4 linked regions of the Homo sapiens genome follow. The protein of the gene in region 1 interacts with the protein of each later gene in a biochemical or structural test. Each region holds a gene or a part of one and is shown in the gene's direction. Other genes may lie near its edges.

What was found.
Region 2: the proteins of MSH4 (region 1) and DMC1 form a complex in vitro, tested with the Homo sapiens proteins (one study listed by BioGRID).
Region 3: the proteins of MSH4 (region 1) and MLH3 form a complex in vitro, tested with the Homo sapiens proteins (2 studies listed by BioGRID).
Region 4: the proteins of MSH4 (region 1) and VBP1 form a complex in vitro, tested with the Homo sapiens proteins (one study listed by BioGRID).

The regions. Positions count from the first base shown.
Region 1 is NC_000001.11:75,876,863-75,883,889, forward strand, and holds part of MSH4 (mutS protein homolog 4), read left to right. Parts: intron 1-73; coding exon 74-138; intron 139-1,286; coding exon 1,287-1,456; intron 1,457-2,129; coding exon 2,130-2,266; intron 2,267-3,187; coding exon 3,188-3,291; intron 3,292-4,383; coding exon 4,384-4,508; intron 4,509-6,758; coding exon 6,759-6,959; intron 6,960-7,027. UniProt on the Homo sapiens protein: Involved in meiotic recombination. Required for reciprocal recombination and proper segregation of homologous chromosomes at meiosis.
Region 2 is NC_000022.11:38,546,167-38,553,193, reverse strand, and holds part of DMC1 (meiotic recombination protein DMC1/LIM15 homolog), read left to right. Parts: intron 1-486; coding exon 487-528; intron 529-3,196; coding exon 3,197-3,269; intron 3,270-7,027. UniProt on the Homo sapiens protein: Participates in meiotic recombination, specifically in homologous strand assimilation, which is required for the resolution of meiotic double-strand breaks.
Region 3 is NC_000014.9:75,048,465-75,055,929, reverse strand, and holds the start of MLH3 (DNA mismatch repair protein Mlh3), read left to right. Parts: upstream 1-4,462; 5' UTR 4,463-4,550; intron 4,551-6,211; 5' UTR 6,212-6,274; coding exon 6,275-7,465. Other genes in the region: ACYP1 (acylphosphatase-1 isoform c precursor), read left to right, coding at 2,271-2,486. UniProt on the Homo sapiens protein: Probably involved in the repair of mismatches in DNA.
Region 4 is NC_000023.11:155,226,434-155,233,460, forward strand, and holds part of VBP1 (prefoldin subunit 3), read left to right. Parts: intron 1-801; coding exon 802-868; intron 869-1,950; coding exon 1,951-2,049; intron 2,050-7,027. UniProt on the Homo sapiens protein: Binds specifically to cytosolic chaperonin (c-CPN) and transfers target proteins to it. Binds to nascent polypeptide chain and promotes folding in an environment in which there are many competing pathways for nonnative proteins.

The DNA.
Region 1 (7,027 bases):
CAACTGTAAAATGATATGTTTGAATGATCTTGTAATTGATTATCCTTAACTTTTTTATTTTATTCTTTAATAGATTGCTATGAAGAACTGTAACACACCTTTATTAAGAGCTTACTATGGTTCCTTGGAAGACAAGAGGTCTTTGTCACTCAACCGTTAATAAAAAATAAGATTATTCTCTTCTTCCTGATCATAACTGATTTTAAAGACTCTAATTGTATTCTATGGAACAATTACTTGAGTTTTGGTTAACAGAATCTTTAACCTATTCATCAAAATTCTAATTGTACATTTCACATTATAAGTAGAATAAATAGGGTAACAACACATTGATTATTTGTGTTAAAGGACAATTAGAATAGCATGAAAACTTGAAATCCAAGCACAATTTTAATATTTCCTTTTAAAGCCATTCTCCATGGAAAGACTTGCAAATAATAAAAATATATTTCTTTATTTTGTTAAATCATGAAGGGTCTAATGTAACAAAAAATAGTAGATATAAATATTGAATACAATCTAAATGCTGTTTAATTTTAACAGTATTAAATTATTAGCAGTAGTTGTGGACTGAAGAACTACTGGTTCAATCCAGACCTTGGTTCTGAACTGAAAAGATTTGTGATACTTAAGAACTATTATTCTATTAATTGAAGATTTATCCCGTGTGAGGCCACACATTGAAGTTAATAATAAAACTGGCTTAATTACAAATAAAATATAGAATGGAATGAAGGAAAAGTTGAGGAAAATATGTGTTACCAGATTTCTGGTTTGCATAATCACTGAACTTTACCACTGGTAATTGTGAGGTTCCTGTTACGCTGTCTACATATGTGTTTAGTGTCTCTTGCCTCTACCGAAGGCAGGGATCATATGTTATTCTTCTCTGAATCTCTTCACCTAGCACAGTGCTTGATACATGGTGTACATTGATGTTTATTGAGTGAATGAGCATGAAGCCACAATTTTTATGACAGTTCTTTAGAGATGTATTTTGTACCCACAGGCACATCAGTATATGTAATTTGTGAGCTCTATTAGCAGATGTAGAATTGTTTTTGGGGTCCTGATGCTGTTTTAGACTAGTCCTGACTGATGAAACAGTTTAAATATGAAATAGTCACAGCTCTAACTTAAGTAAATTTAAATATTTGTTGCTTAATTAGTTATTTCAAAATAACTTTCAACAAAAATTTGCTATCATCAATTGTGATTCAAATTATAAATTAAAATAACTCTTTGACTTATTGCCTATAATGTTTTTCTTTTGGCCTTAATATTAGGTTTGGAATCATACTTGAAAAGATTAAAACAGTAATTAATGATGATGCAAGATACATGAAAGGATGCCTAAACATGAGGACTCAGAAGTGCTATGCAGTGAGGTCTAACATAAATGAATTTCTTGACATAGCAAGAAGAACATACACAGAGATTGTAGATGACATAGCAGGTAATTTCTTTATTTGATAATGTTTTTTGTAGGGATAAAACAGCCTTTTCAGGACATGCTGTCCTTTTTTGCTGCTGATGACTAGCCATACATATTTTAAATTTATTTTTCGTTACCAAAACATAAGGTTAGCATGTAGTGCCATTTAAGGAAACAGCATATGTGGCAGCCTTCATACTAAACTCCTTTTGAAAACCTTCCATTGCCAAGTGCAATAGCTCATGCCTATAATCCCAGCACTTTGGGAGGCCAAGGAGGGCTGATAGCTTGAGTCCAGGAGTTTGAGGCTAGCCTTGGCAACATAGCTAGTCTTTTGTAGAGACAAGACGTTGTCTCTACAAAAACTGAGAAAATTTGCCAGGCATGGTGATGTATGCCTGTAGTCCCAGCTACTCCGGAGGCTGAGGTAGGAGGATCACTTGGATCACTTGAGCCCAGGAGGTCGAGACTGCAGTAAGTTATGATTGTGCCACTGTGCTCAGCCTGGGCGACAGAGTGAGATCTGTCTTGAAAAAAAAAAAAAATTATTAGAGTTTGAAAGAGCAACAAGACCTCCTATTTATGTATAAAATAAGAATTTAAAAACCATGTGACTCTTTAAAACAGAGTGATTTTTCTCATTAAAATTTATTCATTTTGTTTTGTTTTTGTTTTTCTTGTTTCTGGTCACCAGGAATGATATCACAACTTGGAGAAAAATATAGTCTACCTTTAAGGACAAGTTTTAGCTCTGCTCGAGGATTTTTCATCCAGATGACTACAGATTGTATAGCCCTACCTAGTGATCAACTTCCTTCAGAATTTATTAAGGTTCATTTTAGAGTGGTTAGGAAATTAGTGTTTCTGATTTTATAGAATTACATCTACATATTTTTGGGACTTCTTGAGTTTTGCAAGCCAAATTTCTGAATGTTCTGTATCTTCTCCTATTCCTACCCACCCACCTAACTAATGTACTAATCTAAGAGTGATTTAGATGCTTTTGCAGAAATACCAAACTCAGTGTTTTCCACAGTTCTGGGAGCTTGGTGTAAGAAAAAAAGGAAAATGAAGAAAGAACATCCAAAAGCTGTTTATGATAAAAGAAATTAGGAAAATACCACACCATTTGCCTGTTAAAGGTTTAAAAAGTCCTGAAGTAAATAAATCTACTTAACTTTTAAAAATCTAATATTTCCAAACCTTTGTACCACAGGAATAATTTTTCCTATATAGCTCCTTTACAATATACCAGTTTGGGAAAGTCTAACCCACTCTAATCTTTGTTCTATCTGCTTAGGGGGTACTTTTTGATAAGAACAAACCATTTAGCTTTCAGGCTTTTAGAGCTTGAGTACGATTAGAGATTGAGTTGAGGTTCAGATATAGGACAAGGGCTGCGACAGGGGTCAGAGATGGAGTGAGGATCACTGATGTCCATCATGCGTGTTACTTGGTAATAAGATGTAGTGTTTTTAACATTTTAAGACCTATCAGAGTAGTCATCCCAGATGAACTAGGTCAAAATATCCTGCTTTTTAAAAATGAATGTATGGGTTAAAAAATTTGGCTTTATCCTTTGAAGTGATCTACCTCTTACATTTCACAAATATTATTTAGAACTTTCTTTGTGATACCATATCTCAAAGAGTAAAATGATTAACCTAAATACCCATATTTCTGTTGTTTAAAATCTTACATTTCATAGTAGTGTGCATTTATCTTGACATTTGTTTTTTAATCTCCAAGCAGATTTCTAAAGTGAAAAATTCTTACAGCTTTACATCAGCAGATTTAATTAAAATGAATGAAAGATGCCAAGAATCTTTGAGAGAAATCTATCACATGACTTATATGTAAGAGCATTTGAAGTATTTGAATATTGAATTAAATTGGTTTAATTTGAGAAACTGTTACAATTGTATTAGTTTAATTTTTATCTAATTACAGACAATTGTAGAATTATGCATGTTAGCAAAGGAAGTCTGTCTTTGTGATTAGAATCACTGAGCCTCACAGAAGCTTCGGGGAAGATCTAATTGCAAACAAATACTTTTATAATTGATATTTCTGTAATGTGCATTCTACCATGATGTAGAACTTGGCACATCAGGGGCTTACCTGGGCTTCGTTCAGTTTATTATTTTCCTATGGTCTGTAAGTCCTCAGCTTCTTATACCTTGATATTAATAATTCAATAGCAATATCACAATAGTGTCAGTTCTTTTGCTGGTCATGAAATAGTAGCAATACAGCCAGAAAGAAGAAGTAGAAGATTTAGAACACTTATTAGGCTGAAGTAATAAAGAGAAAGGTTGGGCTTTCAAGACAATTTCAAGGCATGTACCACCAACATTTTAATATATAGTAAGTTTTGGGTACATATTTATCTTTGCAAGAGAAAAACTTTTTGCACTATATCACAGTATAACTCTGCCTTATAAAAACTTAAATAATTATATTATTCAGATATTGTGTCTGTGTGCATGTGTGTGAGTGAGAGAACAAGAACGAGAGAGAAAGAAAAAATGGATGAGAGAGAAAATGCATATAGTTTTTGTGTTGAACTTAACATTTGCAAATTCACAAAGTGATTAGCAAATGGGATCTTTCCAAGTATAATGAGGGCTTGATTTGACCTATATCAAATATTCTTAATAATAAAAACTTATTTTATTAATATCATATAAAAGCAGTTATTTCAAAAATGTTATGTTAATACACAAGAAGATAGATTCTTTGCCACTAAGTAGCTGTGATCTTGAGCAAAAACTTCAATTTCCTCATCTCTAAAATGAGACAGATGAACAATAGGCTTTATCTATAGTGTATAACTCAGATGTGAATATTATTTTACTTCAGGCAATGAATTTAATATTATTTTACGATTACAATGTATGTCCCTTTTGAAAAAACATTATTACATGTCTTACCAAACGTGTTTTCAGGATAGTGTGCAAACTGCTTAGTGAGATTTATGAACATATTCATTGCTTATATAAACTATCTGACACTGTGTCAATGCTGGATATGCTACTGTCATTTGCTCATGCCTGCACTCTTTCTGACTATGGTAAGTTGCTTTCTTTGGAATAAACATATTGCATAGTTAAATTTGTATTCGATTCAAACAATTTGATATAATAGTTATGACATTTAAAATTTTTAACTTGAAATAGAGTCTCTTGCCTCTGGTCCTAGACTAAGACACAAAATAAAGAAAGTGAGATTACCCTTAAAATTTTTTTTGAAGTAAAAATTATTCTCTCAGAAATTGGCAAACCAAAAAGAAAAAATTGCAAGAAACTAAAGATTCCCCAAATAAGAAAGACTGTAAGAGCTGTCTCCTTGGTAAAAATGACAGTGATCTAAATTTATAAAGTTCAAATCTGAATACTTATTAGAAGCAGCGTGATAAACGTTAATAGAGAGAAATGCATCTCCAGAGTGAGCATTTTAATCCACTAGCTCTTTAGATGTGAACATACCAAAATTAGGAATTATGTAATTTATTTTTATATCCCAAGTCTATAAAAAGGCCATGAATATAAATGTTAAGTAATTTTCTCATGTTAAATGAATACTTCGAGTTAGTGCTTTGACATTTCTTATCTAACTTACCAGTAATAACCATACTCCAGTATGCAAATTTACTGGACTAGTATGTGATAATTATGGTTGAATAATTGTAGACTTCATTACATTAAAAACATTGAAATTTCTAATGTAAATCAGCAGTAAAATTTCTAAAATGTTATGTTAATTTACTTTTATGGGATGTATCTTAAGATTTTTTCATATTTCTTATGGAAATATTAACTTTTTCTATTGGTATTTTATAGGCCAAAACTTTTCAAACTTTTATATCTCCTTTGCATCAAAACTCTACTTTAGGGGTCAGATATTCCAATGGTAGTTTTGTTTTTAAACTATTAAGAGATTTAGTCTTGCTTCATTTTAGTTTGAGAAGGATCATTCTGAAACTCCATATCTATAAATAATGAATTTTTGAAAATACTTAAAATTTTTTTTCTAACCTCACTTTTATGATGAATGTTTTCAAGTTTATGCATTTTAGATAAAGGTATGGAACATTTTGGTTTTCACATATGCTTTCACCCTCTTCCTCCTCCCCCCACTTCAGGTGGTATCCATAGAGACCTGATCCTTATTTATTTCTATAGATTAGCAGATTATTTGTGTTGATCTTCTCTATTCTCATTCTCTGAAATTTCCTTTTATACAAAATTTCTCCATGGGCTTAGAAAGAATTATTTTTATATTTGATTTTATTCTATAATCATACCTCAACTTATGAGCTAGGTGTTTGAAACCAGCCTGGGCAACATAGCTAGACCTCATTTCTAAAAAAAAAAAAAAAAAAAAAAAAAATCGGTGAGAAGTGGTGGCAGGTGCCTGTACTCCCAGCTTCTTGAAAGGCTGAGGCAGGCAGGAGGATGGCTTGAGCCCAGGAGTTTGAGGCTGCAATAAGCTATGATTTTGCCACCGTATTCCAGCCTGGGTGATAGACCAAGACCCTGTCTCTAATAAATACATAAATAAATGCTAAGCGTACCAAATTTGAAATAATATTAAAGTAGGGAAGTAGTGTTTAAGGTAGAGTAAGTAAATATGCAACTCTGTATTACCAGTAACCAACTATGATTTTTAAAGTACAATCAATGAGTACTTGGTTCTTTTTTATTTTTATTTTTATTTTTTTTTGAGACAGAGACTCACTTTGTCAGCCAGGCTGGAGTGCAGTGGCACAATCTCAGCTCACTGCAGTCTTCACCTCCCAGGCTCAAGAGATCCTCCTATCTCAACCCCACAAGTAGCTGGGACTACAGGCATGAGCCATTACACCTGGCTAATTTTTTTTTTTTTTTTGTAGAGATAGGGTTTGACCATGTTGCCTAGGCTGGTCTTGAACTCCTGAGCTCAAGCAATCAAGCAATCTGCCCTCCTCCGCCTCCCAAATGCTGGGATTACCAGCATGAGCCATCACGCCTGGTCTGCTTGGTTCTTTTTAATCTACAAAAAGCTGAAAATTTTATAAACTATTTTGGAGCTCAGGACAGTGGTAAAGAACTAAATTCTAGAGTTCTCTAGAAGTGAATAAAAGTTGTGATAGTGATTAGAGTGTGTCCATTATAATTTAGAAGAATTTGGGTGGGGATTTGGGATAATATAGTACCTTAATGTTATTATTCCAAATTGACCAGTGTGAAAATCACTAAGATATAGACAATACATACACACTACAAAATCTTTAGACACAAATATATTAATCTTTAAAAACCATTCTATTTTTTTTCTTAAGTTCGACCAGAATTTACTGATACTTTAGCAATCAAACAGGGATGGCATCCTATTCTTGAAAAAATATCTGCGGAAAAACCTATTGCCAACAATACCTATGTTACAGAAGGGAGTAATTTTTTGATCATAACTGGACCAAACATGAGTGGAAAATCCACATATTTAAAACAGATTGCTCTTTGTCAGATTATGGCCCAGATTGGTAAGTTATGGCTTTATTTATAATGACCAGTTTTACACTCTTTTCAGAATGCTTTGTGCCTAATTTTT
Region 2 (7,027 bases), on another chromosome or scaffold:
TTACTAAGGAAAACTTGATTTAAATTAATTTATATTAAACAAATAAGGCCGGGCGTGGTGGCTCACACCTGTAATCCCAGCACTTTGGGAGGCTGAGGTGGGCGGATCACCTGAGTTCAGGAGTTTGAGACCAGCCTGGCCAATATGGTGAAACCCCATCTCTACTTAAAATACAAAAACTAGCCGGGCGTGGTGGCAGGCACCTGTAATCCCAGCTACTCAGGAGGCTGAGTCAGGAGAATCGCTTGAACCCGGGAGGTGAAGGTTGCAGTGAGCTGAGATCGTGCCACTGCACTCCAGCCTGAGTGAGAGCAAGACTCTGTCTCAAAAAAAAAATAAAAAATAACATCCGAGATACTTTATAAGTAAGATTTGCCAGTTGGAAAAGAAAAAGAAAACAGTAATATTCTAAAGCCATGTTTTATTCTTTATGAAAATATCTGGAAATTATGCATTTTTAAAATCATTTTTTTCTGTATTTCACAGAATTTCGTACTGGAAAAACCCAGCTTTCTCATACCCTCTGTGGTAAGGATATATAACAACAATAACAATAATAATCATGGCTATTACTTATCAAACATCTACTATGTGCCTGATACTCTAAATAATCTCATATCTGAACATACTTGCAAGGAAACTAAAACACAGGCAGATTAAGTAAACTGCCCGTGGTTATACAGCTGGTCTTTGAATGTGTGATCCTTGAGGTGATGTATGTGCTGCACTATGAACACCTGAGTAGAAATAGAGAGAAGTTGAATGGGTGTATGAATGTGTTGGTGAGGAGTCCACTGTCTCAGTTTTTCCCATTCCATCTTTTCTATATCTTTTTTAGAAGAGTGACACAAAATCTATTGAGTCCTAGAATCTTTCACTTTCCATGGCATAAAATTGGCCCTAAGAGAGACTTAAAAACAAAATTGTTTTAAACAAAATAACGAAAGATATCTCCTTTTCCACAAATACACTACTGTGCATTTCTTTGAGCTATGGAGAAGGAACTTGGCAAAGTGGTTAAGAAAGGAGTTCTGGCCGGGCCCGGTGGCTCACGCCTGTAATCCCAGCACTTTGGGAGGCCGAGGCGGGCGGATCACAAGGTCAGGAGATCCAGACCATCCTGGCTAACACGGTGAAACCCGGTCTCTACTAAAAATACAAAAAAATTAGCCGGGCATGGTGGCGGGCGCCTGTAGTCCCAGCTGCTGGGGAGGCTGAGGCAGGAGAATGGCGTGAACCCGGGAGGCGGAGCTTGCAGTGAGCCGATATCGCGCCACTGCACTCCAGCCTGGGCAACAGAGCAAGACTCGTCTCAAAAAAAAAAAAAAAAAAAAAAAGAAAGGAGTTCTGGAATCAAAATGCCGGACTTCAATCCTGGTTCTATCGTTAGTAGCTGTGTGACCTTGGGCAAGTTGCTCTACTTCTCTAATTTCCCCCACCAATAAAATTGAAATAATGACAGTGCCAAATGTTAGGATTGTTTTGAAAAGTAAATGAAATAATGTATGTACCTGGTATAAAGTAGCTCCTTAGTGTTAACTACTACTACATAAAAAGTAATTGCAGTCTAGCGTGGTGGCTCACACCTGTAATCCCAGCACTTTGGGAGGCCAAGGCAGGAGGATCTCCTGAAGTCAGGAGTTTGAGACCAGCCTGGTAAACATGGTGAAACCCTGTCTCTACTAAAAAATACAAAAGTTAGCTGGGCCTGGTTGAACATGCCTGTAATCCCAGCTACTGGGGAGGCTGAGGTCAGAGAATCACTTGAACCCGGGAGGCAGAGGTTGCCGTGGGCCGAGATCGTGCCACTGTACTCCAGCCTGGGCGACAAAGTGAGACCTGTCTCGAAAAAAAAAGTAAATGCATTTTTAAAATTTGACATACATTAATTTAAAGGTAACATATTAGTTATATAGCATAAATTATATTTGTGACTTTTTTTTTTTGAGACGGAGTCTCGCTGTGTCACCCAGGTTAGAGTGCAGTGGCGCGATCTCAGCTCACTGCAACCTCCGCCTCCCAGGTTCAAGCGATTCTCCTGCCTCAGTCTCCTGAGTAGCTGGGATTACAGGCACTCACGACCATGCCCGGCTAATTTTTGTTTTTTGTATTTTCAGTAGAGATGGGGTTTCACCATGTTGATGAGGCTGGTCTCAAACTCCTGACCTCATGATCCGCCCACTCGGCCTATTTGTGACTATTTCTTTCTTTTTTTTCTTTTTTCTTTCTTTCTTTCTTTCTTTCTTTTTTTTTTTTTTTTTTTGAGATGGAGTCTTGATCTATCACCCAGGCTGGACTGCAGTGGCACGATCTCAGCTCACTGCAACCTCCGCCTCCCAGGTTCAAGCAATTCTCCTGCCTCAGCCTCCAGAGTAGCTGGGATTACAGGCATGCACCACCACACCCAGCTAATTTTTGTATTTTTAGTAGAGACAGGGTTTTACCATGTTGGTCATGCTGGTCTTGAACCCTTGACCTCAAATGATCCACCCACCTTGGCCTCCCAAAGTGCTGGGATTACAGGCATGAGCCACCATGCCCGGCCATATTTGTGACTATTTCTTGTAGAAAGAAAGTTAGTAGGTTGGGCGCGGTGGCTCAAGCCTGTAATCCCAGCACTTTGGGAGGCCGAGGTGGGCAGATCACGAGGTCAGGAGATCAAGACCATCCTGGCCAACATGGTGAAACCCCATCTCTACTAAAAGTATAAAAATTAGCTGGGTGTGGCAGTGCCTGCCTGTAGTCCCAGCTACTTGGGAGGCTGAGGCAGAAGAATTGCTTGAACCCGGGAGGCGGAGATTGCAGTGAGCTGAGATTGCGCCACTGCACTCCAACCTGACGACAGAGCTAGACTCGTCTCAAAAAAAAAAAAAAAAGAAAAGAAAAGAAAAAGAAAGAAAATTAGTAATATTTAAATTTTATTTCCATTCTTTGGGAGAACTAACTTTCACGAATATCTTCCATTGTGAAAGATAGTGAAATTATTTGTTGAATAACAACTATGCTGGCAGAATACTTATAATTTCACACTGGTTAAGTAATATGAAAATATAACATGTTGTTTAGAAACGAAAGGATCATGACTCTTTGCAAAATGTACTAAAGAGTTGCAACAGCAGATTCCATGTGTATTTATATAGTCATGTGTACAAAGTTTATTCACTCCTATTAATATAAATTTTTAATTGCTTCCTAGTGACAGCTCAACTTCCAGGAGCTGGTGGCTACCCAGGAGGAAAGATTATCTTCATTGATACAGAAAATACTTTGTAACCTTTTTATTTAAAGTTGCTAACATAATAGTGTGATATAGGAATGTTACCACTGAAGAGTTTGTCTGAGATATACAATCTTTGTAGTCATTCCATAAACCAGTAGTAATGAGACAAACCAAAGGGAAAACAATTACTGTTTAAGTTCTCCAATCACTTTGTATTTAATGAGGTTTCACTTCTTCATATGGGTTTATGAGACAAAACAAATACATGAGAGGAAATTATATCATCATTTTTAATCCTCTTACTTCTCTAAAGATGTTGCTTAATAGTTAGAAAAAAGATTTTTTTTTTTTTGAGACGGAATCTCCCTGTTGCCCAGGCTGGAGTCCAGTGGGGCAATCTCGGCTCACTGCAACCTCCATCTCTTGGGTTCAATCAATTCTCCTGCCTCAGCCTACCGAGTAGCTGGGATTACAGGTGTGTGCCACCACACCTGGCTAATTTTTTTGTATTTTTAGTAGAGACAGGGTTTTGACATGTTGACCAGGCTGTTCTGGAACTCCTGACCTCAGGTGATCCACCTGCCTCAGCCTCCCACAGTGCTAGGATTACAGGGGTGAGCGACTGCGCCTGGCTGAAAGATTATTGACTCACTGAAAGTCATGGTCCCAAATGAAGGGAACGGTATGAAGAGGGTGAAAGTTAATAAGGAAAACAGGCAGAACCTGTTTGGGTAACACAACGAATTGCAGTTTAATTAAAGTGTAAGGTATTCCAGGATATGGGCTAGAAAGATGATTGGGATCTTAGACATGAAAGGCTTTGAAACAAGATAGTGGGTGTAAACTGGATACTTTAGCAATATTCTAGGCAAGTAATGAGAACTTGATCTAGGTTGGAACTGGTAAGAATAAAAAGAAAAGGAAAAGAAGTATTAGGAAAATTGATAGGACTTGATGGCTATATTTGGTAGACAAAGGAAAGACAGGTTTGAGAAACCGCTCAGGTTTTTTGTCTAGATACTAGGAGAATAGTTATGTGATGCTAACAATAGAACTGGAAAGATCATGCTTCAGAGAAAAAGAGAAAAGGTGATGTTTCATTTTAATGTACTAATTTTACTTTTTTTTTTTTGAGACAGTGTCTTTCTCCATCACCCAGGCTGGAATGCAGTGGTGCAGTCTCAACTCACTGCAACCTCAGCTTCCCAAGTAGCTAAGTTTACAAATGTACACCACCACACCTGGCTAATTTTTGTATTTTTAATACAGATGGGGTTTCGCCATGTTGGCCAGGCTGGTTTTGAACTCCTGACCTCAAGTGATCCACCCACCTCAGCCTCCCAAAGTGTTGGAATTATAGGCGTGAGCCATCACGCCTGGCCTAATTTTTTTCTTCTTTTGAGACAGGTTCTTGCTCTGTTGCCCAGGCTGGAGTGCAGTGGCCCAATTACACTCACTGCAGACTCGAACTCCCAGGGTCAAGTGATCCTCCCACTTCAGCCTTCTGAGTAGCTGGAACTACAGGCACATACCACCACGCCTGGCTAATTTTTTTTATCTTTTGTAGAGACCAGGTTTCACCACGTTGCCCAGGCTGATCTCCAACTCCTGGGCTCAAGCGATCTGCCTGCCTTGGCCTCCCAAAGGACTGGGATTACAGGCATGAGCCATTGCACCCAGCCATCATTTTAATGTATTGAATATGATGTACATGAGGATATCCAGATGGCACTGGGAAATATTGAATTCAGCTTGAGAAAGGGGTAGGCCCAGAAATATGGACGAATTAACCAAGGGGGAAAGAGAACTTATAGAGAGAGAAGAGAGGAGAATTGAGAACATAACTTTGAGGTATGTTTATATTTAGGAAGAGGACTAAAATGAGAAACCCAGAGACAGAGGAAGTAGAAGGAAATCTGGTTGTAAAAGTCAAGCAAAAGGAAAGTTTCAAGACGATGAGTTGTCAGCAATGTTACACACACACGGATTTTGAGGATACAGCCTGAGAAAGATCATTATAAGTTCAAAATTAGGAGTTCAAGCGAACATTTGCCATAGGGTGAGGTGATAGAAGCTTTATGTAAACAAACAACAAGGGAGGGAGGCAGTATGAAATTGACCAATGAAAGGAAGAAGGCTAGGCACCGTGGCTCACGCCTGTAATCCCAGCACTTTGGGAGGCTGAGGCGGGTGGATTACCTGAGGTCAGGAGTTCGAGACCAGCCTGACCAACATGGAGAAACCCTGTCTCTACTAAAAATACAAAATTAGCCGGGCGTGGCGGCACATGCCTGTATTTCCAGCTACTCAGGAGGCTTAGGCAGGAGAATCGCTTGAACTGGGAGGCGGAGGTTGCGGTGAGCCGAGATCGTGCCATTGCACTCCAGCCTGGGCAACAAGAGGGAAACTCCGTCTCAAAAAAAAAAACAAAAACAAATAGGAAGAAAAAATATACTAGTTTGAGGAGGTATTCAGAGGAAATTCTTTTTAATAACAAAGAAGACCTATGCACATTTGTAAGGCTGTTCACAGTGAAGCCCCAGCCTGCCTCTCCAAGCTCAGTACTCACCATTGCCACTATTAGAGGCAAAGAGATGAATCTGTTTTAGTCCATCCCATTGCCTGTAAACATACTTTGTTATCAAAATTTGCACATATGTCTAGTCTCACTCCAGTGATCCCAGCACTTTGGGAGGCCAAGGCAGGAAGATCACTTGAGGCCAGGAGTTCAAGACCAGCCTGGGCAACATAGTGTCTCTACGAAATAAATTTTAAATTAGCCAGGTGTGGTTGCTATAAATCCCAGCTACTTGGAAGGCTGAGGCAGGAGGCTTATTTGAGGCCAGGAGTTCATGATTAGCCTGGGCAACATAGCAAGACTCTGTCTCTACCAAAAGAAAAAAAATCTAAAAACATTGTACATCAGCAGTTATTTAGATTTAACTATAAAGATTTTTGTTTTCTTTGTTCATTATGGTTTCTTGCATCCCAGATGTTATTTTTTCCTGTATTTTTGTTTTGCTGTAATACTTATTTCTTTCAGAAATGTAATACAGGTGGTAAACTTTGAACCTTAGTATGTCTGAAAGTGCCTTTATTTTGCTCTCACTCTTGGCTGTTAATTTGTCTGGTCACAGAGAACTTTGCATGGTATATTTCTATCTTCTTGGGTATTTGCTCCTTCCATCCCCATCTCACAGTCTTTCTGAATCATACAAATCATTTAAGGCTCTCATTTCAAGGCCTGCTTTTTCTAATCTTCCCTAATTACTCAATTTAGAAAATCTTGTCCTTCTTGACCTATTATAGAATTTACTATCTAAAATACTCACTTAGAAAACAAAACAGAGAACTGTTTGCAGAAGTCCCTTTTCAGAAATGCCAGGCATAAGAAGTCTCTGAAAGAGCCTTTTAACTTGGGGAAGGAGGGTGAAATGTCGTACAGGGCTTTAACAAGGGTGCTCAGCTGGAGTTCAGCTGGTTTCAGAAACAATTGATTAAGGATGATTCTTATCTCAGAGAGGGAAGAATTGTTCTTGCAGAGTAGCAGCCACTGTTTGGGCAATTTGGAGTTTTTTTTTTTCGAGATGGAGTTTCACTCTTGTTGCCCAGGCTGGAGTGCAATGGTGCGATCTCGGCTCACTACAACCTCCATCTCCCAGGTTCAAGCGATTCTCCTCCTCAGCCTCCCGAGTAGCTGCGATTACAGGTGCATGCCACCACACCCGGCTAATTTTGTATTTTTAGTAGAGACAGGGTTTCTCCATGTTGGTCGGGCTGGTCTCGAACTCCCGACCTCAGGTGATC
Region 3 (7,465 bases), on another chromosome or scaffold:
CTTTTATTTCTGATTTTAGTAATTTGAGGCTTTCATCCGTTTTTCTTTATCAGTCTAGCTAAAGGTTGTCAATTTTGTTGATCCTGTCAAAGAAGCAACTTTTGTTTTATTGATTTTCTCTATTCTTCTGCTTTCCATTAATTTCTGCTCTAATCTTTATTTCCTTCTTTCTGCTCATTTTGAATTCAGTTTGCTCTTCTTTTTCTAGTATCCTAAGGTGGAAATCTTGATTATTGATTTGAAGAGAGTTTCTTTTTAGATTGCAACTAGAGGTGGTGATTACAGTCCTTGAAATGTTGTCAGATGATTGTTTAAGCAAAAATATGGTTATGAGGTAGAATTCACTTTTTGGAATTTTCTTAGGGGAGAAAAACCCTGTTGGTGCAATAGATATTCAAAACTGAACATGAGTCAATAACATTATGTCATCATTAAAAAAATAAGAACAGAGTTGAGCACACAAATGAAACCAGTAGGAAACGCCCATTCTCAACACTGGTCAAATTTTGGAGTGTTCTGTTCAACTCTCAAGAGTTCAGATAAGGCCAGGTGCAGTGGCTCATGCCTGTAATCCCAGCACTTTGGGAGGCCGAGGCAGGCGGATCATGAGGTCAGGAGATCGAGACCATCCTGGCTAACACAGTGAAACCCCATCTCTACTAAAAATACAAAAAAATTAGCCGGGAGTGGTTGCGGGCGCCTGTGGTCCCAGCTACTGGGGAGGCTGAGGCAGGAGAATGGCATAAACCTGGGAGGCGGAGCTTGCAGTGAGCTGAGATCACGCCACTGCACTCCAGTCTGGGCGACAGAGCGAGACTCCGTCTCAAAAAAAAAAAAAAAAAAAAAAAAAGAGTTCAGATAAATCACATTGCAAATTTTTAAAGATTTATTTGACTGTGACAACCTCCTGTTTAAAACTGCACATTCTTACAGCTATTTACCATATAAGATAACTCTTAAGAACTGGAGATAGTCAGCTCCCCTGGGTTAATTTGAAGCAGAAGAGGGCAGTTGTTATACTGCCCTGTCAGTTGGATGCGGAGTCTTACTCAAAATTCATTCTCAGCATTCTTCTTTTATGGTATCTTCTTTGGCACTTAGCAGCGCATCAGGTAGGCATCTTCTATTTTTCTTCATTCCTTAATTTCCTTTGTATCCCTCAAATGGTTATTTATTTGGCTGGAGTCTGTTTTGTTCATTAAGCAAACATGTCTTTGCTTTGAACATGTCTTTGATTTGATGGATACTTAAATTCCTCATCAAACATTTTGTTGCTATGCATAACGTTTTCTTTGGCCAACTCCAGCAATTTCCCACATTTTGACATGCAATCATGTTAACTCCCATTTTCTTTTGTAATCCAACATCTTCTATTTAGATAATTACTTTAACAATCAATGACTTAATATTCTAATCATAAATTTATACAAAAATAAAATTACCTCCAAAACATTGCTACCTTTCCTAAACATTCAGTCTTGCCACAGTTTAATAAAAGGAAAGAACATTAAAAAGGATAAGACACTGTAATGATTAGATGCTTTTTATAAGCCTAAAGGCATTGTGATTATTTAGACAGAAGAGAAGAAAGTGAAGTGAAAACCTGATAGTTATGTAGTCTCATGGTTTGCTGTTGAGAGGCTGAACACCAGCTGCTTTCCTTTTCTAGGAAGATAATAAAGTGGGCTTTGGCTACAACATAAAGATGTTGGGTTAGACAGTTTCACTACAGTAAGAACAACGGGATGAGTTGCCCAGGAAATTGTGAAATACTTTCTAATGATCTTTAAAGATATAATGAACACTAATTCATCTGGATTTGTTTACGTGTGGTCCTGGTTAAAGGCAAAGGGAAGGATCAGATAACTTCATGTTTTTTCCATTTAACATACCCAATAGATTCTTGATTAGGGGAAGGGAAAATGAGCAAGATACAGTCCAGTATTCTAAAAACAATCAGCCTTAGGGGATCATTTCAAAAGCATCTGTTTTGGACTTAAGTCTTTGATACTTAACCAAATTGACTACACAGTGAAAAATTCTAGTGCCTGGGTTTTATAGGGTAGAAGAAAGACATGCAGTCAAGTGGCCAATACTTCATGTGAAGATAAGCAATGAGATCCTTCTTGCTGTCTTTCTTTTGACTGTTCTGGGCAATATCAAATTAGTTTCAGTGGCTTGATTCTAGGCCAAGATTCTGGCAACAGATTGTAGTCTTACCTTGTTTTCTTCAATCTCACTGGATCTCTCTCTCTTTTTACCCCCCTTAGGCTGAGGGTAAAAAGCTGGGATTGGTAGGCTGGGTCCAGAACACTGACCGGGGCACAGTGCAAGGACAATTGCAAGGTCCCATCTCCAAGGTGCGTCATATGCAGGAATGGCTTGAAACAAGAGGAAGTCCTAAATCACACATCGACAAAGCAAACTTCAACAATGAAAAAGTCATCTTGAAGTTGGATTACTCAGACTTCCAAATTGTAAAATAATGGCCTGAATTTAAGTTTTCTAAGATAAACTCAGTGGTTTGGTTTTTATTATTAATAGAGATAGAACTATTGTGTGTTAATATTAGCATTAGTCAATAAGTTATTTTAATGTCAGATTTTTGAATGTTATTATATATTACCTGTATGATGGAAGGATTACCACTGTACACAAATCTAATCAATAAAAACGTTAGAACCTTCTGCTTAGAGTACTTTTAAAAAATCTTCAGTGAACTTCCTTTTGGGCGAAATGAGAGGTCTTTATTCAGTAAACATTTGTAGGAAGAGGATTTTGAGGTAATTTAAAGAGGTCTGAAAGAAAAAAAGTCTGAGTCATTTCTTTAAATGGTTTCTATGAAATGTTCTTCAAGAAATTCCATGCCTAATAAGAACAAATACCACAAGTTCAATTTGTTAGCTCTGTTCACCTTATGTTTGGATGAATTACTTCTGCTGTTGTTTCTTTTCTCTGGGTAAGGAATTCACATAAAGTTATGTTATGGGCTGAACTGTGTCCCACCAAATTCATATGTTAAAGTCTCAGTCCCCAGTACCTCAGAAAGTGACTGTATTTGGACATAGGGCCTTTAAAGAGGTGATTAAGATTAAATGAGGCTGTGAGGGTGGGCCCTAATCCAATCTGACTGGTGTTCTTATAAGAGAACATATTGGCTATAGACACGTGTGCAAAAATCAAAGACCCTGTGAAAATGGCCATCTACAAGCCAAGGAGAGAGGCCTCAGGAGAAATCGTTGCTGCCAACACCTTGATCTCAGACTTCCAGTCTCTAGAACTGAGAGGAAATAGACTTCTGCTGCTTAAGCTACTCAGTCTGAGGTATTTTGTTATGGCAGCCCTAGGTATAGTAATAATCATAAACAGTTATCAGGATTTTGCTTAATCAGCCCTAGAAGACTGGTTGGTTGGGTTTGGTTAGTCACTAAACTAGCATATATCAAATGCTTACCAGGTCTGACAAATTCGTTATAAATTCCACTTTAAATTCTCAATGAAAATGAGATAGAAAGCAAAAACTAAGGACTGGTTAACAATTCCAAAACACTTTATTCTCACAGCATTCTCAGAGTTCTGCTCTCCTTTAGTTATTTTTATAACTAAAAGCTGTGGTGGCACTGGGGAGATTCAAGTCAGTGAAGAGAGTCTTGGTGTTGTCATCTGTAAATTAAGAGTTGAGCAAAGGCCGGGTGCGGTGGCTCACGCCTGTAATCCCAACACTTTGGGAGGCCGAGGCGGGCAGATCACCTGAGGTCCGGAGTTCGAGACCAGCCTGACCAACATGGAGAAACCCCCGTCTCTACTAAAAATACAAAATTAGCCGAGTGTGGTGGCGCATGCCTGTAATCCTAGCTACTCGGGAGGCTGAGGCAGGAGAATCACTTGAACCCTGGAGGCGGAGGTTGCAGTAAGCTGAGATCGCACCACTGAATTCCAGCCTGGGCAACAAGAGCTAAACTCCGTCTCAAAAAAAAAAAAAAAAAAAAAAAGAGTTGAGTTAGACAGTTTCTCAGCCTTTTCCAGCTCCAAATGCCATAATTCTAAGATGGCAGGCTCTGGAATTATTCATTCATTCGGTGCCTACCATAGGCCAGGCACTGTTCTTGGTAACTGGGATACAGCAGTAAACAAAATATATAAACTCCTTACCTTCACATAGCTTACATTCTAGGGAGAGAAGACAATAAGTAAACACATAAAATATATATTGAATTAAACGGTAGTTAAGAGCAAAGGTGAAAATGAGAAAAAAAAGGAAAGGGAAAACACGGGAAAAAAAAATAAAAACAAAAGTAAAAGCTACGACATAGTCTTTAACACCATGCCAAAAGGGAATAAGGATTGAGACTGTAGGTACCGGTTCACTGAACCCTGGGATGCGGATCCTTGGCTGGAACAACTGGTGCGCATGCGCACTGGTGTCTCGCGGCCTGGCGCGCCCCCTCCGAAGCGCATGCTCGTGGGCACGCACGAGCCTCAAGATCCAAGGTGCGCGCGTCGGCGTCCGAGGCGGTTGGTGTCGGAGAATTTGTTAAGCGGGACTCCAGGTGACTCTGGGGGAAGCACGCGACGAAAAGATGATGCCGGGGTCTCTTCTAACACCAGAAGGGCCCTGATGATGGCTGCGCGCAGCTTTCGGAGCCGGATGCGCGAGGGCCCCGGAGGCCCGGCGGCCTGGCGGCCGGGCGGGCCCAGTTTGGGGACAAGGACGGGGCTGGCCAGGGAGGGGCTGGGCCTGGCGGGAAGGCAGCGCTGCCCCGGACTCGGCCCGCGCGGCCCTCCCAGGCCCCCGTGCCCTGGATCCAGGCCCGTGCGTCCCGTCAGTCCCAGGCGCTGGGAGGCGTCATCAGGAAATCATTGGGTTTACATTAATCGGAATACTTGTTAAACGTTTACCCGTCAGTTGCTGCCGGCTGCTTAGTGCATTAGCTTAGAAAGCAGCAGAAATTCTGCAGTTAAGAGCCCTGATTTGTCCCGAGTTTGGAAAACCGGCCCCACCGCCTGCAGGGGCCCACCCACGTGGCTCTCACTGATGGAGAAGAAGGGGAGACCTTTAATGGCACTGGAATCTTAGGGTTTGGTTTTTTTTGTTTTGTTTTTTGTTTTTGTGTTTTCACTTGCAGGAAAACTTAAAATCAAGTTCAGGCAGCCCCATGCCATCATTATTATTACCAAGGTAGTTTATGCCCATCTGTAAAGACCAAAAGAATATTAATAATGACCTTCTGGCCGGGCGCGGTGGTTCACACCTGTAATCCCAGCACTTTGGGAGGCCAAGGCGGGAGGATCACTTGAGTTCAGGAGTTCGAGACCAGGCTGGTTAACATGGTGAAACCCCATCTCTACATAAGAGACAAAAATTAGCCAGGCATGGTGGCGAGCGCCTGTAATCCCAGCTACTCGGGAGGCTAAGGCTGGAGGATTGCTTGAGCCCGGGAGGTGCAGGCTGCAGTGAGCCGAGATTGTGTCATTGCACTCCAGCCTGGGTGACAGAGTGAGACTGTTTCAAAAAAGAATAATAACGACTTTCTAAAAACATCAGAGTAATACATGAACAGGATTTAACAATCAAATGGCAAAGAAAGGTTTATATGAAAAGGAATTTTCCTGCTTTATCTTTTCCCATTCCCAGCCTCTTTCCCTGAGGTGACTATACTTAACCATAATAATAATAACCTCTTAATGCCCCCAATCTCTCTTTGATACAATTTGATTCTTAAAATTTCTTCCTATTGCTTCACCTTATTACAATGTCTTAGCAATTCATTATAAGTATTTTTCTAAAAGTCATGGTTATTGTGTAATGTATAAATGTTATGAAACTAGCTTGGACATTTTTGTCATGAATAATTTCTAGCTAATGTTCCTTAGCTGTATTTAATTTAGGCATCTGTTTTTGGTGAAGTGGTTAGAATTTCGAATACTGTGTTTACTGGTCAACTTCAAGTGTAATTATGATTTCACTTTAGGACATGTGGGATTTAGAAAGGAGCATTGAAAATTATGAAATTATGAATTTTTTTTGGATGTTAATCCATTGCACCAAGCATGAGCTGTGCCTAGAGATCAGCGGTATAACTTTGTTTTGCTTTGTTTCACAATTTGGTTTAATAAGAGTGATTTCATTTACCTCAAGTGCTATTTCTTCATAATGCTGTGTAATGCTAAAGCTTTGATTATGTGCGTGTGTGGTTTTTTTCTCCAATAGGCAATTATTTCCAGTCAGAGAAGGAAACCAGTGCCTGGCATTCTCACCATCTTTCTACCTACCATGATCAAGTGCTTGTCAGTTGAAGTACAAGCCAAATTGCGTTCTGGTTTGGCCATAAGCTCCTTGGGCCAATGTGTTGAGGAACTTGCCCTCAACAGTATTGATGCTGAAGCAAAATGTGTGGCTGTCAGGGTGAATATGGAAACCTTCCAAGTTCAAGTGATAGACAATGGATTTGGGATGGGGAGTGATGATGTAGAGAAAGTGGGAAATCGTTATTTCACCAGTAAATGCCACTCGGTACAGGACTTGGAGAATCCAAGGTTTTATGGTTTCCGAGGAGAGGCCTTGGCAAATATTGCTGACATGGCCAGTGCTGTGGAAATTTCGTCCAAGAAAAACAGGACAATGAAAACTTTTGTGAAACTGTTTCAGAGTGGAAAAGCCCTGAAAGCTTGTGAAGCTGATGTGACTAGAGCAAGCGCTGGGACTACTGTAACAGTGTATAACCTATTTTACCAGCTTCCTGTAAGGAGGAAATGCATGGACCCTAGACTGGAGTTTGAGAAGGTTAGGCAGAGAATAGAAGCTCTCTCACTCATGCACCCTTCCATTTCTTTCTCTTTGAGAAATGATGTTTCTGGTTCCATGGTTCTTCAGCTCCCTAAAACCAAAGACGTATGTTCCCGATTTTGTCAAATTTATGGATTGGGAAAGTCCCAAAAGCTAAGAGAAATAAGTTTTAAATATAAAGAGTTTGAGCTTAGTGGCTATATCAGCTCTGAAGCACATTACAACAAGAATATGCAGTTTTTGTTTGTGAACAAAAGACTAGTTTTAAGGACAAAGCTACATAAACTCATTGACTTTTTATTAAGGAAAGAAAGTATTATATGCAAGCCAAAGAATGGTCCCACCAGTAGGCAAATGAATTCAAGTCTTCGGCACCGGTCTACCCCAGAACTCTATGGCATATATGTAATTAATGTGCAGTGCCAATTCTGTGAGTATGATGTGTGCATGGAGCCAGCCAAAACTCTGATTGAATTTCAGAACTGGGACACTCTCTTGTTTTGCATTCAGGAAGGAGTGAAAATGTTTTTAAAGCAAGAAAAATTATTTGTGGAATTATCAGGTGAGGATATTAAGGAATTTAGTGAAGATAATGGTTTTAGTTTATTTGATGCTACTCTTCAGAAGCGTGTGACTTCCGATGAGAGGAGCAATTTCCAGGAAGCATGTAATAATATT
Region 4 (7,027 bases), on another chromosome or scaffold:
TTTAAATCAGTGATCCATTTATAATTTTAAGAACGATCGTTACCTCATTTGAAAAGAAGAGCATTTATCAACATAAAAGTTAAGGAAGAAATACCCAAAGCTTAAAAGAATCACTAAATTATACTGTATCATAATGTGGTGTGTTTGGCATTCAGATGATTCTGTACATTTTTCACAGTGTGACAAGTGCACATACTGAGAAGGTGTCACTGTGCTTTGCCTGGCATTTAGCTGACTGTGATGTACATGTGTGTATACCCAATGCACACACCAGGAGTAGCTATGTGCATCACTGGATAGGGGATTGGTGTCTTCTATTTTAGAATGTAACTTTTGAATCCATGTTATTTTTAAAATTAGTTTTAAAATTAATCTATTTAAAATTTCATTCTAATCAAATGCAGAACCTATGAATCACCTCTGTGGAATATAGTCTGCTCTAGAAATGTTAAATAGCCATGGGGTATTTGACATAATAGAACAGAGCTTTGTCTTCATGGAATGGGCATTCCATAAACATTCACTAGTATATCTTAAATATTTTTATTAAGTATTTATACTTTAAATATTTTATGAATATTTTACTAAATATATTTTCTTTTGGTGAATATTTCTTTAAATATTTTATTTTTATAAATATTTATATCTTATTTTATCTCATATCTAAAAATATCTTAAGTATTTTATATCTATAAATAGTCCTCAAGAACACATTAGTAGAAAATGCAAAGTTAGTAAGACCGTGTCCTGTTGTTTATTTTTGCCTGCAAAATACTAAGTTACTCTTTTTCTTGTTCACAGGCTAAAAGGTCAGATTCCTGAAATTAAACAGACTTTGGAAATTCTAAAATACATGCAGAAGAAAAAAGTAAGTGCATTTTTGTTTGTAAATATGAGCAAGCTAGGATATGTCAGCAGAAACTCGTCTTCTTTGACTCTTTGGTCACTGATATTTGATCTGTGCTGTGGAATCCAGTCTGCCTTCTTAAGCACATACACTAATGTTATGATGTGCTTCTGTAGCAAATGTGGCTTTGTGGCCTTCCCCCAAAAGTCAAGTTTAATTCTAGGGCCCACACTTGGATTACTTTGCTTATCTTTAGTGCTTGTGAAACTTAAATGCAATTTGAAATTGTTTTAGGTGTACAAAGAAAATGTCTTATTCTGTGCTAGCAGCATCTAGGGTTTTTTCTTTGTTGTTGTCTTTCTCCCTAAGAATAAGGAGTTAGTCCAAGATTTATAGAGCTGGAACGAATCTTAGAGATCATCTGTTACAGGTTCTCATTTCATAGTTGAGGAAATGGTTATGGAGAGGTTATACTCGACCATTGTCTATGTAGTTAGTTACTGGCAGAACTAAATTTGAGAGTCTTCTAAGTCTTAATCCAGTATTCATTAAATAAAAGCAGGTTGTAAAGATTAAATCTCATAAGCATATTGTATTTAAAAGATTGTGTGTATGCTTATGATTTTGCTTGACTGGTAGAATAACTATTTCTAGTACATTTTAATATGTGGTGAACTTTGTAAGACTTCAGCAACTGATTGATTGGGCATGAAGCACCAATGAAATAATAGAAGAATGGCTAATTCTTACAATAATGCCTTCTCTGTATGTCAGGCACTCGGGGGTGTGTGTGTGTCTGTGTATACTCAGTGCTTACCACTGACTTCATAGGTGTAGGGACTGTTGTAATCCTCATTTTACAGATGAAGAACCTGAGATATAGAAGTTAAGTGAGATGCCAGATTTGTACAGCTAGTGAGTAGCTGAGCCAGAGTCCATACCCAGCCACCTGGGTCTAGCATTCATTTCTTTTACCACTACACTTAGCCTGCATGATGGTACTGTTTTAAATGTCCTAGGTTCAACTGTGCAATCTCTCCTTTATAACCTTGGTATCAAACTGGCCTGTTTATGGTACTGTCATTTTTTTTTTTGTTTTGAAGGAGTCCACCAACTCAATGGAGACCAGATTCTTGCTGGCAGATAACCTGTATTGCAAAGCTTCAGTTCCTCCTACCGATAAAGTGTGTCTGTGGTTGGGGGTAAGTAAATGTTATAGCCACAGCTGATATATTTGTAAACCAGTGTGTTTTCTGTAGCAAACACACTGGTTTTGCTAGTATTTGCTAGTATTTTAGTAGTATTGCTCGAGATATGTAAAGTGTTCATCTCCTTTTGATTGTGGAAGGGACAAAGGGACAGAGTCCAAGTGGTTCATATTAGAAATTGACTAGAATCAGAAGTGCGATGAAGATCGCAGTAAAAACATACTGAAGTCTCTCCCAATCAAGATAAAACTGATCAAACAAACCCTGCTTCTCTTCCAGTTAGTGCTTTATCTCTCTTAAATATAATGGAGGAAGAGCAATAGAAGTAAAATAGAAGGTACTGCTGAACTTTAGATAAACGCTTCTTCCCATAAGAGTTTAATAATTCTAGAAAGATCCCTCTCAATTTAAGGGGAAAAAGAGTATTGCAAAAAGTTTGAGGTTAGAGTTTATTTTTTAAAACCATGTATTTCAGTTTTAGATGATTTCATTGAGCTTATCTGTGATTTACCTATTTTGCTCTTCTCAGTCCTCTGACTATCCAGCTACCTGTCTGTGGATCTTGTTACCTCAGGCAAGTTCTCATACAAAGTAGCAAGCCAAGTGTACTTCTACCAGCTGTCCTACGGGGAGGATTTCCCCTAGCTGCTGTCCTGTAGGATCACTCTGGAGAGGCACTCTAGATTAGCCCAAGGAGGTTTGCTCAAAGTTTGTACAACATTTATATTTCACTCTACAATCTGCATTTCAGTATTTATCTTTTATAATTTATCACTAAGGCTTTTTAAAAAATAACTTTGAAGCATAGCAACTACACCTGAGTGTCCAAGGATTCAATGATTTTCTGTATTCAGTTTTTTTGTAGAAATTGCATGACCTTTTGATTCACAAATTCAAGTGTTACTTTATTTCAGGAAAGATAATTTCTGTTGTGTACTTGAATGTGACTTTTGCCCCATTTCTTTTATTATCTTTTGGGAATAATAAATATGCATATGTTCGATCTCCTTTATCTGTTTTCAGTACCTATCATGTTCTCTGTTTTCAGTTATTCGATGTGTTTCATTCTGTGTGATTTCCTCTGGCTGCTTCCCCATGACTTTGTGTTTTCCCTGGTAGTTATTCTGTTTTGTTGCTTTTACTCTGTCTTTTGTAACTGTTCTTCTGTTTCTCTTTCTCTTCATTTTCTTTGCTGAGCTCTTCTTGCTCTTTTCATGTTTTTCTTCTTTCATTCCTCTTGAATGTTTAAATCCTCATTTCACCACTCATAGACTGGCACTTCCCACAATCTTCTCCATCTCAGTAAATGGCAGAATCTTTTGCCTGGTTGCTCAGAACAAAAATCTTTGAGTCTTCTTTGACTCTTCTTTATTTTATATCTCTCAACCAGTCCTTCAGCAAACCCCACTGGTTCCTTCTTCTGAATAGATTGAGAAGCCAACTATCTCTCACTTCCTTACTGCTGTTACCATGGTCCAGGCCACCTTTGTCTCTTGCCAGGACTGTGGGAATACTGTCTATTAGTTTTTAGGGATGCCATAATAAAATTACCACAAACTGGGTGGCTTTAACAACTGAAATGGACTGTCTCATGGTTCTGGAGGCCAGAAGTCCGTGATGAGCCCCAGAATCAGGGTCGATTCCTTCTGAGAGCTGTGAGGGAAAATCTGTTCTAGCCTCCTCTCTTAGCTTTGGTGTTCGCGGACAGTCTTTGGCATGTTGATGTGTAGAAGCATCACTGTGATCTCCGCCTTCATCTTCACATGTGTGCATGCATGTGTCCAAATTTCTCCTTTTGAAAGACCTTATCTCCAAATAAAGTCACATTCTGAGCTACTGGGGGTTAGTAGTCCAACTTATTTTTTGTTGGGGAGACAGAATTCAATCCATAATACCTTACTTCCACGTAAGGTCACATTCGCTAGTATAAGGGGTTAAAACTTAAATGTATCTTTTTTGGGGACACTGTTTAACCCATAATAATACCCTAATTCACTGTCTTGCTTCTGCCCTTGCTGGAATTCCTAAAGTCTTTCCAGCACAGTGGTCAGATTAATCCTTTGAAATCTCAATCAGGTCATTCCATTATTCTGCCCAAAATCTTTGAATGGTTTCTTATCACATTCCGAGGAAAAGTCCAAGTTCTTTGAGTGGCTGACAAGTTCCTATACATCCTGGTACTCTCTGTTACTTCTCTCTTTTTTTTTTTTTCTGAGACAGAGTCTCACTCTGTTGCCCAGGCTGGAGTACAGTGTTGTGATCTCAGCTCACTGCAACCTCTGTCTCCCGGGCTCAAGCGATTCTTGTGCCTCAGCTTCCTGAATAGCTGGGATCACAGGCACGTGCTACCATGCCCAGCTAAATTTTTTGGTAGAGACGGGGTTTTGCCATTTTGGCCAGGTTGATCTCGAACTCCTGGCCTCGGGTGATCTGCCCACCTTGGCCTCCCAAAGTGCTGGGATTACAGGTATGAGCCACCGTGTCCAGTCTCTCTGTTCTTCTCTTACTTCCTCGCTTGGCCACACTTGGACTTCTTGCCAGACTTAGAGCATGCTGGGAATGGCCCTGCCTCAGAACCTTTATTCTAGCTCTTTCTTCTGCTTAAGCTGCCAGAGTAGTGCTTTTAAAACATGTCAGATGATTCCGCTTTTCTGCTCAAGACCCCAGTGGTTTCCCTGTCACCAAGGGTGGAATACAGAGGTGTCCTTTCCACAGGACAGCCCTACTCCCTCTCAGCACTCATTTATGCTCATTCTTTTGCTCACTCTGCTGTAGCCATGGTGGCCCCCTAACTGTTCCTGGAACCTGCCAGTGTGGCCCCACATTTCTACTTCTGTGTTCTTCACACTCAATCCTTTGAGTTCTCAGTTCTGATTGTTAGCTCCCCCAGGGACCTGCTATGACTTGTCTGTCAGCATTTCTTGGTTTCACTTGTACTGTTTATCTTGTATTGTTTTCCTTCAAAGTACTTAGCACTCCCTGATATGTTATTGATTGGTGTATTTACCAGTTCCCTGACACATAATAAGTGCTCAGTAAAAATTTTTCTTGGGTGAATGACATTTTTGTTAGTTTTTCATCAGAGTTCATACATGCTAATGGTTCAAAGAGCAAATAGAAAGCAGCAGGCTACTGCTCCATCCCCAGATGCACCCACTTTTAATCATGTCTGTACATCTGTATGTACCTAAATATTTGGAATTTTGTTAATTGTTTTTACAAAAATGGGATATATATTGTATATTGTTCAGCACAGATGTCTTTATTTGTGAGTAGACACAGAGTTTGCCTCCTTGGTTTTATTGGCTTACTATTCTGTGGTAGGGCTATGTGATAATATTCCCAAGTCAAGGGGTGTTTGGATTGTTTTAAAATTTCTTGTACAGTGAGCGGTGCTGTAGTAAATATTTTTGCACATATAGACTTGTATACAAAGGCATATTTTTGTATGCTGCTTTGAAATGGAATTGTTGTGTCTAAGAGTATGCACATTTAACATGTTGATGGATACTATCAAATTGCTCTCCAGAAAAGACTACCAATTTTCATTTTCTCCAACCGTATATAAAAATACCCTTTTATTAACAGTCTCACCCACATTTTTAGATTTTTGCTAGTTTTATAGGTGAAAATAGTATCATCTTATAGGTTTTTGTATGACAAAATGCTCATTTGTATTTCCTCTTCTGTTTCCCTTCCTGACTATGTTGTTGCTCCATTTTTCTGTTGGATTCTTTTTCTTTTTTTTTTTGATAGACATTTAGGTCTTCTTTATATATTATGTATTTCGGATGCACAGTCTTCTCTTAATATTGCAGATACTTTTTCTCATCTGTCACTTGTCTTTTGTGGTAGCTCTTAGAAGTTTTAAATTTTAATGTAATCGACTTTATCAGATATTTATAATTTTATCTTAACAGTGTACTCCTTTCACCAAATCTGCAAACATTTTTTTCCTAATATTTATATACTTAAATTTTTTAGAAAACTTTTTTGTTAAGGATAACATGGAAAGATAAGCAACTCCTCAGGATAATGGGTGAGTGACTTCCAAAAAGAGGGCCTCCCAATGGCCAGTAAACATATGAAAAGTTGTCCCACTTCATTAGTAAACAGGGAAATGCAAATTAAAAGCACAATGTGATCTCACTGTGTACCCACCGGAATGGTAGGGTGATACTAAGTGATGGTAGGACATGGAATAGTGAGAACACTGATTTACTGTTGGTGAAGGTGTAAATGGACACAGCCACTGGGGAAACTGGCAGTATCTGTTAAAGCAGAACATATGCATTGCCTATGCCATAGCAGTTCCATGCCTGTCTCTATCTCTTTCTGCCTCTTGCTGTATATAAGAAATGTATAAATATTAACTAAAAGAAAGGTATAAGAATGTTCATATCAACTCTGTAGTAACCAAAACCTGGAAACAACCCAAATGTTCATCATAGTCGAATGGATGAGTAAATCATGATGTGTTCAGACTGTGGAATACTATACAGTACAGAGGAGGAATGAACTGCTGCTACACGCCAGCACTGCAAGGGTGATTTTCACAAACAAGGTTGAGTGAAAGAAACTGCATAGCAAATTACCACAAACTCAGAGGCTTAAAACAATATCCATTATCTCCTAGCTGTATAGGTCAGAAATCCAGATGGGCTTGGCTGGGTCCTCTGTGCAGGGTCCCACAAAGCCAGAATTAAATTGTCAACAGGGCTGTATTCCTTACTAGCATCTCTGGGGGAGAATTAGATTTCAGCCTTATTCACGTTATTGGCAAAATCCGGTTCTCTGTGGTTGAGGTCCCTGTTTCCTTGCTGCCTGTCGTCCAGGAGTCAGTCTCAGCTTCTAGAGGCCACCTGCAATCCTTGGCTCATGGTCCTTTCTGTTTTCAAAGCAGTGATATGACTAGTCTTTCTTACACTTTAGATCTTTCAAACTTCTCATTCTGCTGCCAGCCAGAAAAAGT